3 separate regions of the Homo sapiens genome follow, and all the other regions are reported to be linked to region 3. The links are microRNA targets in miRTarBase. Many come from high-throughput screens and were not tested one by one. Region 3 holds a microRNA gene; each other region holds the end of a gene's coding sequence.

Evidence for each region. Region 3 holds the annotated microRNA hsa-miR-6811-3p (AGCCUGUGCUUGUCCCUGCAG, at 2,716-2,736, shown strand). A microRNA usually pairs through its seed, bases 2 to 8, with sites in the 3' UTR of a target mRNA and lowers its output. Matches are read on the target gene's strand: a 7mer-m8 pairs with bases 2 to 8, a 7mer-A1 pairs with bases 2 to 7 and ends in A, and an 8mer does both.
Region 1: miRTarBase lists ANKRD42 as a target of hsa-miR-6811-3p. The part of its 3' UTR that is shown has no 7-base or 8-base seed match.
Region 2: the mRNA of HNRNPF is a reported target of hsa-miR-6811-3p. Seed matches in the 3' UTR shown: 8mer at 4,213-4,220.

The regions. Positions count from the first base shown.
Region 1 is chr11:83,247,494-83,252,558 of GRCh38, reverse strand. It overlaps ANKRD42 (ankyrin repeat domain 42), which reads right to left. Exons shown (of 11, transcript NM_001300975.2): 11 at 3,588-4,616. The coding sequence ends at 4,355. Among named protein-coding and RNA genes, the nearest start is that of CCDC90B-AS1, 36 kb to the left of the region's middle.
Region 2 is chr10:43,382,381-43,387,445 of GRCh38, forward strand. HNRNPF (heterogeneous nuclear ribonucleoprotein F) reads right to left here. Exons shown (of 4, transcript NM_001098204.2): 4 at 3,238-5,065. The coding sequence ends at 4,257. Among named protein-coding and RNA genes, the nearest start is that of FXYD4, 13 kb to the left of the region's middle. RefSeq lists enhancers at 2,230-2,379, 2,400-2,479, 2,530-2,609, 4,347-4,848, 4,849-5,065.
Region 3 is chr2:237,508,253-237,513,325 of GRCh38, forward strand. It overlaps MIR6811 (microRNA 6811), which reads left to right and starts at 2,679; the gene lies at 2,679-2,736. MLPH (melanophilin) reads left to right here. Exons shown (of 16, transcript NM_024101.7): 3 at 2,322-2,543; 4 at 2,737-2,849. RefSeq lists enhancers at 2,149-2,649, 2,650-3,150, 4,531-5,031, 5,032-5,073.

The sequences.
Region 1 (5,065 bases), not on the chromosome of region 3:
AAATTCATTCGTGGTGATGTGTAGAGTAGCAATTCACACATTTTCATTGCTATATAATATTCCATTGTATGAATATAGCAAAATGTATTGATTCTTACTGTTGAGGGAATTTTTAGATGATTCTAGTTTGAGAGATATATGTAATAATGCTGACAAGAACATTATATATTTTTGGTGTCCATCTGTGTACACAAAGAAACATGTACTAATTCCACTAGGAATTAATTTTCCAAAGTGGTAGCCAATTTACACTGCCACCACTGGTGTATAAAATCTCCAGTTGTTCCACATCCTCACCAGCATTTGGTAACGTCTGTTTCAATTTTTGCCATTCTGATGGGTATATATTGGTATCTTGTTTGGGTTTTAATTTACATTTCTGATAACCAGTGATTTTGAGCACAATTTCATGTTTATTGGCCACTTGGATATCTTCTTTTGTGAAATGCCTACACAAGTCTTGCCCAGTTTTTTTACTGGACTGTCTTTTTCACGTTGATTTATATATTCTAGATACAACTTCTTTTTCAGATAGGAGAGAAGAAAGAAAAGCAGAGAGAAAGAAAGGAAATATGTTTTTCTACACTTTGGCTTGCCTTTTCAAGTCTGTTCATATAATCTTTGATGAACTGAAGTCTTATTTTAATGAAGTCCAGTCTACACATTTTTTTCCTACCCCAAGGTCATGAAGATATCCTACGTTATATTTTATCATCTCAACTTCCAATTTAAGACATATCTTGAAATATATGTTTGAACTTATAGTGTAACATTTTAACAAAATTCTTACCAATTTTTAAGTTTTCATAAGTAAATTAACCCTAAAATTAATTTACTAAATTAATTTACTAAAATTAAAAAGCTATCATCAAAAGTTTTCAAAGAAAAATTTTCAAAATAAATGTTCTTAAAAGCACAGAAAGAGGGAATGTGAGGGGTTTATAATAGCAGTAACAAGTGGTGTTAAAAGCATAGACTTGGGGCTAGACAGGTTGAAATCATGGCTAGCCATCTAACAAGCTTTGTAACTTTATAAATTGTTTATTTTATCTGAGAGTTGATTTCTTCATTTATAAAATGAAGATGGTATCTGCTGAATATAAAGTCTTAACACTAAGCCCAACATACTCAAAACCTGTTGTTAATGATGACTAAGATGATGTTATTAACATAAGTTAAGTGATCTTATAAAACTTAGATTTTCAGTACTGCGGGTAAAGTAAGTGCCCAATCATGCTGTGATACAGATGACGAGAAGCCCTCAGACCAGTACAAGGTGCTTGATAGAAGGAGAGATCACGTGTGACCAGGGAGACTAGGAAAGGGGTGATAAATGAGATGGCTCCTAGGGGATTTTACAGAGTCAACAGGCAGTTTTCAAGGTATATGGACAAATTGAACAAAGGCTTAATGATGGGAAAGCATAGGGTAGCTTAAGAAAAAATAAGCTATTAATATATATATAGGAGAACAGACAAAAATAAAGTTGGTGAGGTAGGTTAAGGCTGAATGTCAAACTGAAGAATCAGTACTTATTCAGGTAAGGAAGATTTTCAATCCAAGGAGTGACAAGAAAATCAAGCTGACCACTGTGAGTCAAATGGATTTGGATAGGGAAGGAGTAAATACCAAAATTCTATCACAGTAGTTCAGATAGAAAGATATAGAAACCTAAACTAGGGAAGCAGTGAAAGTAGAGAACATGTTCCTACCTACAGGATGGACTCGCTTTTTGTATGATCTAAAGGAGAAAACATGGCTAATCATTAAGAGTCCAAGACTGGGTAGTTGAGAAAATAGTGATGCCATTAATTTAAATGCAGAGATAGGGGAGAGAATCTGGTCTTGATATTGAGCTTGGTTCTGGACATTTTTTTTTAATTCAAGCACCACCAGGAATTTCGGGTGGAAATGTCCAGTTGACGAGCAGTGGGAAATACAGGTGGGGATCCCTAGTGGGGACACAGTACTTAAGTATGGATTTGATAGTCATTTCCACAGAAGTATTAGAAAAATATAATGTGGAGACAGAGATTCTGAGTTTGCTCCTGCCTTACACTAGCTGTATGCTCTAACAAGACTCTCAACTTCTCTGAGCCTCTGCCCTCTCATTTATAACATGGGATCAAAAATATATATATCATTCTACCTCCTCATAGGGTTGATGCAGACTAAAATGAGATAATATCTGAGAAAGTGCTATAAAAACAGCTGTTATCAAAAAACCATTTAAGTGCTTTATATATGTCAAACTATCCTAGGAAACTATTCGAATAATTTTTTTTCTCAGTAAAAATTATACTATTGCAGATTATGTTGGGGGCCGAGGATCTTAAGGTACAGTAGTATGCAATCATAGGTCCTGACCAGAAGGTGGCAGGAGAAAGACTTAGTCAGAGCTTCTTGAGGATTCCGTATTTATAATCCTGAACGAAAAGTTCATTTTACTTATACATTACATATAATTAGACTCCCAGATAAATTCTTCCTATCCTTAGCTGCATGTGGCTCTACACATTTATTTATCCACTGACCATGTCAACTCATCTGTAATATAGAAAATGGAAAAAAAGAAAGGGAGTAAATAATACAATGACTACTACTATATAGTGAATACCTCTGCGTGCTAGAAACCAAATTCAGGATTTCTACACAATATTCCATTTAACATCAATACAATTCCATGAGGTAGGTATTATTATTCCTCATTTTAAAGATGAGGAAATTGAGATTCAAGCTTTTGCAAGTGAAAATAAGCAGTGCCAGAGTTGCAGCTGCCATGAAAGCTCAGTGACATTTGCTTATTTACAAAAATTAGGTATAACCTAAAGCAAGAATGCAAAAAAAAATGAACTCTGAGCACAGGGACCTTGAGACAGCTCTCCTGAAAGCCTACACATTGTTGGTAGAGTGAAGTTTTAGGGAAGCAAAACTGTGAAGTATGAAACCAGATCCAACCTGAGAACAGATGCTTCTGAGTAAGCAAAGAGAATTTCTAAATAGCTAAAAGACAGAAACATTCCTAAAGTAGACAGTTTGGAATGGCTCAAAAGAAAATGTGCAGCTTGCGTGACCACCCCAAAAGATTGTCCCACCTAGGCAGCTGAAGAACAACAACTTAGCCTTGGCAACAAAGCAAGATCCCGTCCTTACAAAACAAACAAACAAACAAACAAAAAAACTAATTGGCCAGGTGTGTTGGTGCATGCCTACAGTCCCAGCTACTTGGGAGGCTGAGGCAAGAGGATCACTTGAACCTAGGGAGTTCGAGGCTACAGTGCCCTATGATGGCACCACTGCATTGAAGTATGGGTGACAAGAGCAACACCCTGTCCAAAAAAAGAAAAAACGAAGAACAACAACTTACAACTTACCTTTCTACTTTTGAGGAGACTGGGAGTCACAGAGTCCCTGCCACAAGGTGGAGGGGTAACAGATTTGATTGGAAGCAGTGAGTTATAAATGGTGCTGTGTCCTCTAGCCCTCTAACCAACACATGACTGTACAGCTGGCCTCTCTGATACTAAATTTTCCCCATGTGCTAAAGATCGTACAAGAAGAGGGTTGCAAAATGAAGAGAATAGATTAATTATTATAGTTAATTATATTTCTTGGAAAATCAACCACTGGTGAGACACCAAAACCCAGAGAAACTGAGGAAGTGGTTATATTTGCATATGCATAGAAATACACATACATGTTTGCAGATAAATAGAATTTTGTCTAATATGGTATGTACTAAATTGTTAACAATAGCTTCCTCTGGAGAGTGGAACTTAGTGTCAGAAGGAACATCTATCTTGTTTTTAACACTATACAACAAACATGTTTTATTATTTTAATATTTTTAAAGTGGTTATTAAAGAGACCAATGACTAGTTTGTGCAAAATAAAAAGAAGCCAGGAAGATTCTATAATATTAATAGATCAGATTTGAGGTGACACAAGCCTCAAACAGAATTAATTCATCCATGATGATTGATGAAGAAACTTCCCTATGGAAAGAAAATATGGATTCCATTCAAAGCACTTTATTTTGGTTATTTAGAATATTAAAATATACATATCCTCTAGCTGTCTTAGAATTCTGATTGATTACTTATGAAAACATTTTCTCCTTCTATGGTACAATGTTAACAATAATACTTATGAACTAGGCTGCTGTTTGAAGATAGATAGACAGATGTGTGTATGTATCTAGAAAGTTATAGTTACATATAGAGTGTGTGTGTGTGTGTGTGTGTGTGTGTGTGTGTGTGTGTATTCCTTTAATCCTGTCATCAGCTCTAGAAAGTATAAGTTATCATCTCCAGTTTATAGTTGAGGCACAAAAAGGTTAAATGAGTAGCCCAAATCAAAAAAGACTATAGCCAGGATTCAAGTCCAAAGAGCCCCAGCCCAAAGCTTGTACTCTTGGCCACTCTTGTATATACTTCTTGAGAAAAATAAATGTATTAAAAAGGACACCAACCATAGCCACAAAGTTTGGGACTTGAATTTTTTCCAGTGTTTCCCTGAGTTGATCAACTTCTGCTCGATATTCATCAAGCTGACATTCTAATTTTTCTCTACGTAGTCGTTCATACTCCAGCTGGCCCTGCAGTTCTTTGATGGTCCTATCAAAAACAAAATTTTTTAAAAATCAATCATCAATGTCAACTAATAATTACTTTTAGTAGTGGAAAGCATTCATACATTGTATTTAAGGCAAATAAAACAAAGAAATCATTTATTCAACAAATATGTATTAAGGGTCTACTAAGAATGAGCACTGACCTAGGTATTGGGGATACAGTGGTGAACAAAAGGCCCAAAATCTGCCTTCCTGGACCTTACTTTAGTAATAGAGATATGCAGACAACAAGGAAAATAAATAAGTAAAATATATGGTATGTTGGAAGGTAATAAGTGCTAAAGGAGAAAACAAAAATAAAGCAGGAAAGAGTAGTATAAAATGTTGTGGAAGAGGGGCTTAACATTTCATACACAGTGGCTAGGGAAGGCTTTATTGAGAAGGGGGCTTCTAAGCCAAGCCCTGAAGGAAATAAGAGAGATAACCCTGTAG
Region 2 (5,065 bases), not on the chromosome of region 3:
CTGGGCAACAGAACGAGACTCCGTCTCAAAAAAAAAAAAAGAAAGAAAAAGAAAAGAAAGGTAACTAGCCCTCTCCTGCAGAAAACGTGGCCTTGATTCAGAACACTCAGAGTTTCAGGGTTTGGCCTGAGTGTTTACTGAGACTTATCAGAGGTGCCACATGAAATCATTTAGGAACACAGGTACCTCTTTGATGGGGCCTATGCTGTCATTTGTAGCAGATGGCAGAGGAGCTGGTGGAGTCCTTGCATCCTTCTGGTCACCTGATAATTAGCAGGAGTAGTATTTCCTTTTTTTTTTTGAGACAGGGTCTCACTGTCATCCAGGCTGAGGTGCAGTGGTGCAATCTTGGCTCACTGCAACCTCCGCCACCTGGGCTCAAGCGATCCTCCCACCTCAGCCTCCCAAGTAGCTGGCCTACAGGTGTGAGCCACCATGCCCGAGTAATTTTTGTATTTTTTGTAGAGTCGAGTGTCTTGCCATGTTGCCCAAGCTGCTCAAACTCCTCAGCTTGGCCGGGCACACTGGCTCACACCTGTAATCCCAGCACTTTGGGAGGCCGAGGTGGGTGGATCACCTGAGGTCCAGAGTTCAAGACCACCCTGGCCAACATGGTAAAACCCCATCTCTACTAAAAATACAAAAATTATCTGGGCGTGGTGACACCCACCTGTAATCCCAGCTACTCAGGAAGCTGAGGCAGAATCGCTTGAACTGGGGAGGTGGAGGTTGCAATGAGCCGAGATCGCACCACCGCACTCTAGCCTGGGTGAGTGAGACTCCGTCTTTAAAAAAAAACAAAAAAAAACAACTCCTCAGCTCAAGCAGTCCACCTGCCTCAGCCTCCCAAAGTGCTGGCATTACAGGTGTGAGCCACTGCGCCAGGCCTCAGGGTATTTTCAAGGGTCAAAGCAGCTTTCTCCAAAATCCAAAAACTACTACCCAAAATTATGCCTCTTTCAACACCCGGCATTTTTAGTGACTCAAGGGATGAAAATTCTTATCAGGCCCTTACTTGCTTACACATTAACCACTCGCTTTTTGCCCAGTATTCCTTGTTCCCATAATGAAATTATGAACTGCTGAAATACTGTTCCTTGTGAAGGAGGGGATAACTTCAGGGCCATAAAAAAATTTTGCAGAAGTAATGAATGTCTTTAAACACACTGCGACCAGCTGCAGACACCCAGAAGTCTGGTTATTCAAGACACTATGTGAGACTAAAGAAACACAGACTTTTCCCCCCTCGGTTCTCTGAAACTGCCCCTCCCTTAGTCTCTAGCTGTGTAAAAACTCCCCATGCCTGGCATGGTGGCTTATGCCTATAATCCCAGCACTTTGGAAGGCCGAGGCTGTAGTGTACTATGTCGATTGGGTATCTGCAGCAAGTTCGGCCTCGCTATGACCTCCCAGGAGTGGAGGACCACCACGTTGCCTAAGGAGGGGTGAACTGGCCCAGGTTGAAAACGGAGGTCAAAACTTCCATGCTGAGGCTGTGCGCGGTGGCTCACGCTTATAACCCCAGCACTTTGAGACTCTCTCAAAGTCACTGCACTCCAGCCTGGGTGATATAGGGAGACCCCCATCTCTAAAAAAACAAAACAAACAAAAAAACTCCACGCTGCTTCTTTTTGTTAAGGCAGATTTCTCACCTTGGCCAAATCAAATAAACCTTTATCTCCAAGCACCTTTGTCTTGGTGTTTGGCATCAGCTACACATCAGGTACGCAAGCCTGAATTTGGGGTTCTACAACATAACAAGATGCAGTATCTTGACTTTTACCTTGCAGGGAATGCCCTAGTCATGCCCAAGGCCACAGGTTGAAAAACATTTCCTGTAGTGTCAGTAAATATTTTAGGTTTTGTGGGCCATGTGGTCTCTGATACAACTACCCATCTCTCTGCCTGCTGTAGTACCTGGGCAGCCATGGACAGTATTAACAAATGGGCACGGCTGTGTGTAGCAACAAATGGGCATGGCTGGGTGCCATGGTGCATGCCTGAAATCTTAGAACTTTGGGAGGCTGAAGAATACAGATCACTTGAGCTGAGGAGTTCAAGACCAGTCTGGGCAACATAGTGAGACCCCATCTCTACAAAAAATACAGAAATCAGCCGGGCATAGCGGTGTGCGCCTCCAGTCCCAGCTACTTGAGAGGCTGAGGTGGGAGGATAACTTGAGCACGGGAGGCTGACACTGCAGTGAGCCAATATCATGCCACTAGACTCCAGCCTGGGCATCAGAGAGAGACTTGTCCCTCCCCAACAAAAGTTAACAATCCTGGAGCAAGGGGATGTTTTGCTGTCCATGTTATGTTGTTACCTTGGGATGTCAGGTCATCTAACACATTCCCTTTCCCATCCCCTGGAGCCCTTTCCACCCATGCATCCTAAATCTAGCATAGACTTCCAGGGTTGTGAAGGTACTCTTTGAATCTCCACCACTCTACGAAATCTGAGGTCTCATCTTCATGGCATTCCAGCCCCATTTCCAGCGGAAACTCCACCTGTTTCTGTGGGTCTCCCTCACCTACAGGCCTCTCCTTCCCCATGCAGTGCTGACACTTGAAGCATGGTAGGCCCATGGGTGGGCAGAGATCCCAGATCAGGGTTACAGCAAGGACAGTTCTCCCTAGGTTTCCCCCATGCCAGTCTTCCGAGTGCCTCTTTCTGCGTCCCTGTACCCTGCCATTCCTGGTGATGCTGCTGCCCTCACATCAGGCCATCCAAGCATGCAGAACATAAGCATGCAGAACACTGGAACGAAGGGCTGTACCTAAGGTGAGCCTCTGAAGCCCAATGAGGCTAGAAAAGGCTGAAGACTTCACAGACCTAATTTTTAATGCAGCTCTCAGGGGTTTTACCAAGAGCATTTATTTACTCTTTAAGATACTAATGAAGACCCTTAATATTGGTAAAATCATAACATATAGGTTACATTATACAGCTAGTGAAGTGGGAAAATAAAGTTGAAGAATTCCCAATGGTAGATAGCATTTTTGCACAGAATGGTTTTAAATAAACTCCACATTTTAAAGTCCTGATGGTTTGTATTTAGCATAAGGTTTAAAATGATAGTAATACTGTATGCTATATATAGAGCTGCCTGAATTTCAACATTGCTGTTGCCAAGGTAGATAGCAATTTGAAAATGGGTCTCAAGCTTGATAATGTGTATCCTGTCATAACCTAATTAACAAATGCGCCCTACAGAAATCAGGAGCGTGACCAAAAAAAAAAGTTTAAATCAGCATTTTATAAAAACTAGAAACAAAATAATTGCTTTCACAATGTAGTACTTGAAACTAAAGTTCTCCAGCTATCAACAGATGTGACTCCAGCATCAAGGGCCTAGCAGGAAAATTCTGAATGGTTTACAACAGTGCACATAAGTTGCAGGTGGCTGGGGCCGTGTGTCTATTTGATGCTTCCCAGAATGTGTGCTGCTAGTCACCATTTCCACCATTCACATATTTAACATTTTTATTAGACTTTTATTTAGCCTCATCATAAGAATATAAGGGAGATCATAGATTTGATGTATGAAATTTTTAAATTCACACTAAAATACATTACGATTAAAATGAATTATCTTCAACCACCCGTTTTGCTATCTTTTGCTGAGTAATCTGTGCCAGTCATTGTGAAAAAGTCTTTATTTTAAGAAAAAAATTTAGTTAACAAAAAATTTAACAAGTTTCACTTAGCAAAATACACCCAAAAGGAAATCACAGTACAAAGAAAGTTTTAAGTCAAGGCCTCACCAATTCCTACAGTATTAGTATTGTGTCTCAATTCTCAAAACTAACTTTTAAAAAGCTTAAACTTAACCTAAAGGATTTTAAATGAAAATATAAACTAGAATGAACAAACATGAGAAATATTTCTTTGAATCAGGGAGCTAGCACCTTTGAGTTTTCCAAAAAAGCACGTCTCCCCAGTGTGTTCACTGTGATGTGGTGTAAAAGATCCACATTTAACATACTTAAACTACTTAAACTTAGATAACATCACTCTGAAGTATACTACCAAAATGTTAATTGAGAAAAGCTGAAAATAGTTTTAGTTTACTCATTATCACATGCTAGAAGAAAATTTTGCATGAGAAAACACTGAAGAGGTAATTTTTTAATCCAGATTTTTCACAAACTCATGGTGCAAAATGGGTCCCCCAGCTTCCTCTATTATAACTGCTCTTAATTGCTTGTTGGCTGCCTGTGAAAATGATTGAAGTAACTCAAATGTTCCTAACAAAACTAGTCATAGCCACCCATGCTGTTCTGCCCACTGTAGCCGGCCCCGTAACAGCCACTCACTGACTGGCTCTCCAGGCCACTGTAAGTGGCCTGGGCAGCAGACACCCCCATGCCTTGCATCACCTGGCTGCTATACGCCCCATTGCTGGCCCCTGTTGTTGAATTCAAGAAGAGTTCTATATATCTGTGCTGCATATTGGCCCTGTCTTTGGACATAGCTGCCACAGCTTCTTCATGAGTAGCAAACTCAACATCTGCTTCACCCGTCACTCTTCCATCTGGGCCAATCTCAATATGGACTCTCACAGGGTTGAGAGGAGAGAAGAAGTTGTAAATGTCGTTCTCGGTCGCTTTGTACGGCAGGCCCCTCATGTGGACACAGTGGCCTGTGGTGCTCTGCACTGTGAACTCACTGTCGCCGTATCTGTGGTCATACATTCCGGAGAGACAGTAGCTGAGGTCTCTCCCGAACAGGTCGGTGGTGAAGCCGTAGCCATCACTGAGGCCACTGTACTCCTCGTAGCCCCCGTAGCCTGTGCTGTAGGCACCAGGCCTCATCCTTTCCAGGCCTGCCTGCTTCACGATGCCAATGTACCTCCTGGCAGTCCCGGGCCGGTCATAGGGCCCTGGCCGCTGCACGGACATGAACTTCAGAGGGGGATCTGAGTATGACCTAACTTCCTCCTGGCTGCTCTTAAACACCTCAATGTACCTGTGCCCTATCCTCTCCTTGTGTTTCCCTAGAGCCTTCTCAGCTAACTCCTGCGAGGCAAACTGCACGAACGCTTCCCCTGTAATCTTGCCTTCGG
Region 3 (5,073 bases):
AGGTGTCCACCACTGTGCCTGGCTAATTTTTGTATTTTTAGTAGAGACGGGGTTTCACCATGTTGGCCAGGCTGGTCTTGAACTCCTTACCTCAGGTGATCCACCTTCCTCAGCCTCCCAAAGTGATGGGATTACAGGTGTGAGCCACTGCACCCAGCTCATTTCTTTTTCAATGAAGGATCTAATGACTGTCAGAGCAGTTGGGCCCACTGCCCTGACTCGTGCTAAAGCCTCAGCAGTTTATCCACCATTGTTTTTACACCTTCAGTGCAGGCATCAAAGAGCAAAGAAAAGGCAAATGATGTCTCAGCATTATTACAAAAATAGCTTTGGCCTTGTGACTCACCCCCCTAAAGGATCTTAGGAACCTCCAGAAGAGAGGTCCCTGGACCACACTTTGAAGACCACTCTTCGAAATCATTGGATCTAATATTCCACGGTAGAAATTGTGCCCATTTCCCCCTCCATTGTGAGCTGTGATTTCTCGCCATCTCTGTCTTAACCAGTTCTTCTCCACCTCCACCAGCATAGCCGGTGGTGCTCCCATCTCAGCCTGGTTTCCTCCTGTGTCTCCTCTGTCCCTCTCATTGAGACTGCACGTACTTGCTTATGCCCCATTCAGCACACCAAGCTGACTTGTTTCGAGTCTGTTTCTGATGGTAAGTCACATTCAGGAGGGTCTTTTATTCCTGAAGCTAACTTTAAATTGGAGCCACGTGCCGGGCTCTTGCCTGTTGAGGAGTGACTTCTGGTCAACCCAATTAGCAGAGTGCATGGAGTGCTCTGGCCCCATTCACTCCTCAGGATCGGAAGCTCCGGGTCTTGTTGATACGTCCTGGAGTGGCTGGCAGATGTCATTTGGTCTCCCCAAATGGAGTCTTCTCTGCCCTCCCTTCCTGGTCTCTGGCTATGAAGAAGGGAAGTTATGTTTTAAAGAATCTAAAGCACAGTACAGTTCTCCTTTCCCCTAATTTCAGCCTCTGAAATATATCAGCCTCCAGCTGCTGCCCCAGGACACTTCTGGGCTCTTATTTAAGAGGACTCCTCCAGCCTGGAATGCAGGGCAGTACACATGTCCTTGTCTTTCTTCCTGCTGTGCTGGCCCTCAGGGTACCGTTCTGCCTGGATACAGAAGAAGAGGTTCTCCCTGGGACAGAGGCTAACAAGCCCTGTCCAGCGAAGGGGTGGCCTCCAGGTTTTCTGGTTGGTGCAGAGCTGGCAAGGGTGGAAATGGAGGGAGTGAGGCCCTTCCCATCTGGCTCCAGGGACTTGTGCTCCTCTGTTTGGGACAAAGACTTTACCTTGTCAATGCAGCTTTATCTAAACTGTAGTCTGTGGATGGCGGTATCCCCCTAGATTCCTACAACTGCTTGACCCTTTTTCTCTTGGTTTTTGAAGCTATGACAAGAGCCTGATTTCGTGTCCATCTCAGTGAACATTTTTGTAAATAGTGGAGAGAGGAAAATCGTGAAGTTCAGCCAATTGCACTTGAAACCGGAGGTGGCCTCCCCCTGCCTGGTGGGACTCCTCCACTCTCTTCACCTTTGCTGCACTCTGGGTGTCCGCCTCCAAATCAGTGTGCTTCAGAGTTCTCAGAAGACAATGGCACCTAGTGTCCTTCTTGTTTTTGTCACTAAGAATGGATTAATTTTATCTCATCTGAAACTGAAAATATTACGTTTGGCAGACATTCTCTGAAATCTAGAACAAAAGAAATGTGTTCATTATCATCTAAGGATACACTTTCCAATCAGTTCAACTTGGCAGGTTCACCAGGAAGCTGTGTTATTTAAACTCGGATGGTCTAGGAGAACTGTAGACTTCCGGGTGCTAGATGATTCCTGCTCTGGAAACTCACCGAGCCATTTCAGCTGCGCTCTAGAGGAGCAAACCTGGGGCGTTAGCTCAACTCTTGCCCCCCTGCTGAAGGAGACCAAAACAATGCTTGATCAGGAAACACCATCTGGCTTTGCCCCCAGGATTCTGTGACTGCCCTGGGGAGGGCGCAGTGACCTGCCAACCAAAATTGGTACAATTGTAAACAGCCACAGAAATGCTTAAATGCAATATCATTTCTATGAAATTAACGTGTTTCCATTCCATTCCAGCCACCAAAATTGCCCGTTTGAGCTCAGCCCTCAAAACAAAGATGCCTGTGTGGCTTTGCCCAACGTTGGGTCACTGTTTTCTGCATAGGAGACAGTTACTGTGTGTGTGTATGTGTCTGTGTCTGTGTGTGTGTGTATGTACGTGTACACACTTAAAGCCTGTTGCAAAAACAAGATGCCCAATATATTTCTTGTTTCTGATATTTTCCCAAGGGCGTTGAAGGGCAAGATTAAGAAGGAAAGCTCCAAGAGGGAGCTGCTTTCCGACACTGCCCATCTGAACGAGACCCACTGCGCCCGCTGCCTGCAGCCCTACCAGCTGCTTGTGAATAGCAAAAGGCAGTGCCTGGAATGTGGCCTCTTCACCTGCAAAAGCTGTGGCCGCGTCCACCCGGAGGAGCAGGGCTGGATCTGTGACCCCTGCCATCTGGCCAGGTGAGCCCAGGCCTTGAGGTAAAATGACCTTGATAGTTTCTGGATCTGGCGTGTCCCTTCCATGGGGCTAGCTGAAGAAGGGTGGACGCACACATGCACACACTCGTGTGTGTGTGTGTGTGTGTGTGTGAGATTTATGCAGGCCTGTGTACAGCACTCAGGCAGTGCCATGAGCCTGTGCTTGTCCCTGCAGAGTCGTGAAGATCGGCTCACTGGAGTGGTACTATGAGCATGTGAAAGCCCGCTTCAAGAGGTTCGGAAGTGCCAAGGTCATCCGGTCCCTCCACGGGCGGCTGCAGGGTGGAGGTAAGGAGTGGAGAGTAAGAACGGCTTTTTGTTCCCAGGCATTTTAGGAATATTAAAGCAGGTTCCTTTGGAGTGTGCATGTGTGTGTGTACGTGTGTGTGTGCATGTGTGTGTGCACATGTGTGTGCATGCACATGCCTCTCTGTGAATTCCTGCTTCTGGCTGCTTTTTTTTTTTTTTTTTAATTTTTGTAGAGACAGGCATCTCACCATGTTTCCCAGACTGGCCTCGAACTCCTGGGCTCAAGCAATCCACCCACCTCAGCCTCCCGAAGTGCTGGGGTTATAAGTGTGAGCCACTGTGCCCTGTGAAATTGGCTCCTTTTTATGTGAGGTGCAAACCTCTGCATCCCACTGGCCTGGTCTGAGCACCTCAGAAGTCCTGGGTGCTGCTGAAGTTGCCAATATTTGAAATTATATTGTTTTCAAATCTTCAAAGTAAGTTGAGAACTCAAAGCCAAGTTTCTGAAACCCAGCTGCTGATTGAATCACCAGGGTGCTTGTTAATACTACATGTTTTCCAAGCCCTTCTTCCCTGGGACATCTGGTTTGGGGCCTAGGCTCTCTCTTTTCAACAAACATTTCACATGAATCTGGTGATTATCAAGATTTAGAGAAATCTGTTGTAATTCAGTTGTTTTCATCTTTTGAATCCAAGTATTTATTTCATGATGAATTTGAAATCCAGGCAGTAGGCTTAAACTAAACAATGTGTTCGCCTGTAAGATCCCCCATAAGGCATTTGGAAGAGATCTTTTCAGGGAGAGGGTGGGAGGATGCCGGGGGGTCTTTTGCATTTGAGTTTGAAGGGAGCTAACCCATCAGTGTTTTTGAGAAAGCTCACCTTGTCCCTGTTACCTGGAGTCCAAGGCTTCTGCCACTAAGCCCGGCCAAGCATTCGGGTGGGACAGCCGCCACCAAGCCAGGTGTCTGGGGTCTCAGTGTCCTGGATGACTCCATCTGCAAGACCAAGGCGAGTTTCTCCAGGGCCACGAGGCAGCGCCTGGCTCCGGCAGCTGGGCACGTCCAGGGCAGAGGCTGTGCTTCTGGATTGGGGCGTCCTCACCATGCCCCAGCCCAGGCGTCTCCCCCAGGCCTTCCTTCTGGAGAGACACCTTATTCGTGCCTGTCTCTTAAAGCCTCAAGTTTGATTGAAGAAGCAGAAGTTGGCATAGACACCTTTGAGCATTCAAGCTCTCGCCGGGCCTGCTGCAGGCATTTCAAGGCATCTTAGCCCATCGTTTAATTTAGGACAGAGGCCACGGAGAGGCACCGCTGGAGCAGTACACCGCACACCACAGGGTGGCTGCACTTTTTGGGTGGTGGGGTGGGGATGGGGGCAGGTATGATCAATCATCCAAACCAGGGCATTTTTAAGAGTAAAAGGAGGCTCTACTGATAACATGCTGCAACAACAGATGTGACTAGGAACGGCCGGTGACATGGGGAGGGCCTATCACCCTATTCTTGGGGGCTGCTTCTTCACAGTGATCATGAAGCCTAGCAGCAAATCCCACCTCCCCACACGCACACGGCCAGCCTGGAGCCCACAGAAGGGTCCTCCTGCAGCCAGTGGAGCTTGGTCCAGCCTCCAGTCCACCCCTAACAGGCTTAAGGATAGAAACGACACATAACACCGGGAAAAGCCATGCTGTCAAGCATCTCAGAATCTCAACCCCAGAGGCAGTCTTTAGGGACTGGGGTGGGCTCAGGAAGCTGTATTATTTCAAAGGACGCAGTGTTTCCACAGCTCAGCCCAGAGCTGCTGGAGTTCACACGGCCCACCAGAACCTGCTGACTTCAAAATCATCACCACCAAGGGGCCAGGAGGTGGCGCTGTGGGGCAACAGAAAACAGAAAACAGCTGCTCCTTGAACTTGGATTCCCAGCAGCTCCCCCAAGCGCCCACAGGGGCTGCATTCCTCCCTGCTGGACACCTGTAACTACAACATTAAAACAGGGCGCAAGCAAGGAACACAAACACTGGGAAAGCTGTGCCTTTAAAAAAAAAAAAAAAAAGGAGGGTAAAAAAGCTTAAGGTTAATGTTTTGAAACCTGACCCAGCCAGGGCCTAATGCAGACCTTGTCCAGCTAGTAAGTGGGCCTCTGGGGGTCTTCATTGAGTGAACCTTCAGAGTGCTGGTGTTTCACCAAGGCCTTCCATAGAGGACGCGGCAGGCTCTGCAGGAAGCAGCTTCGATGGCCGATGGCCAAGAAAGGAAGGG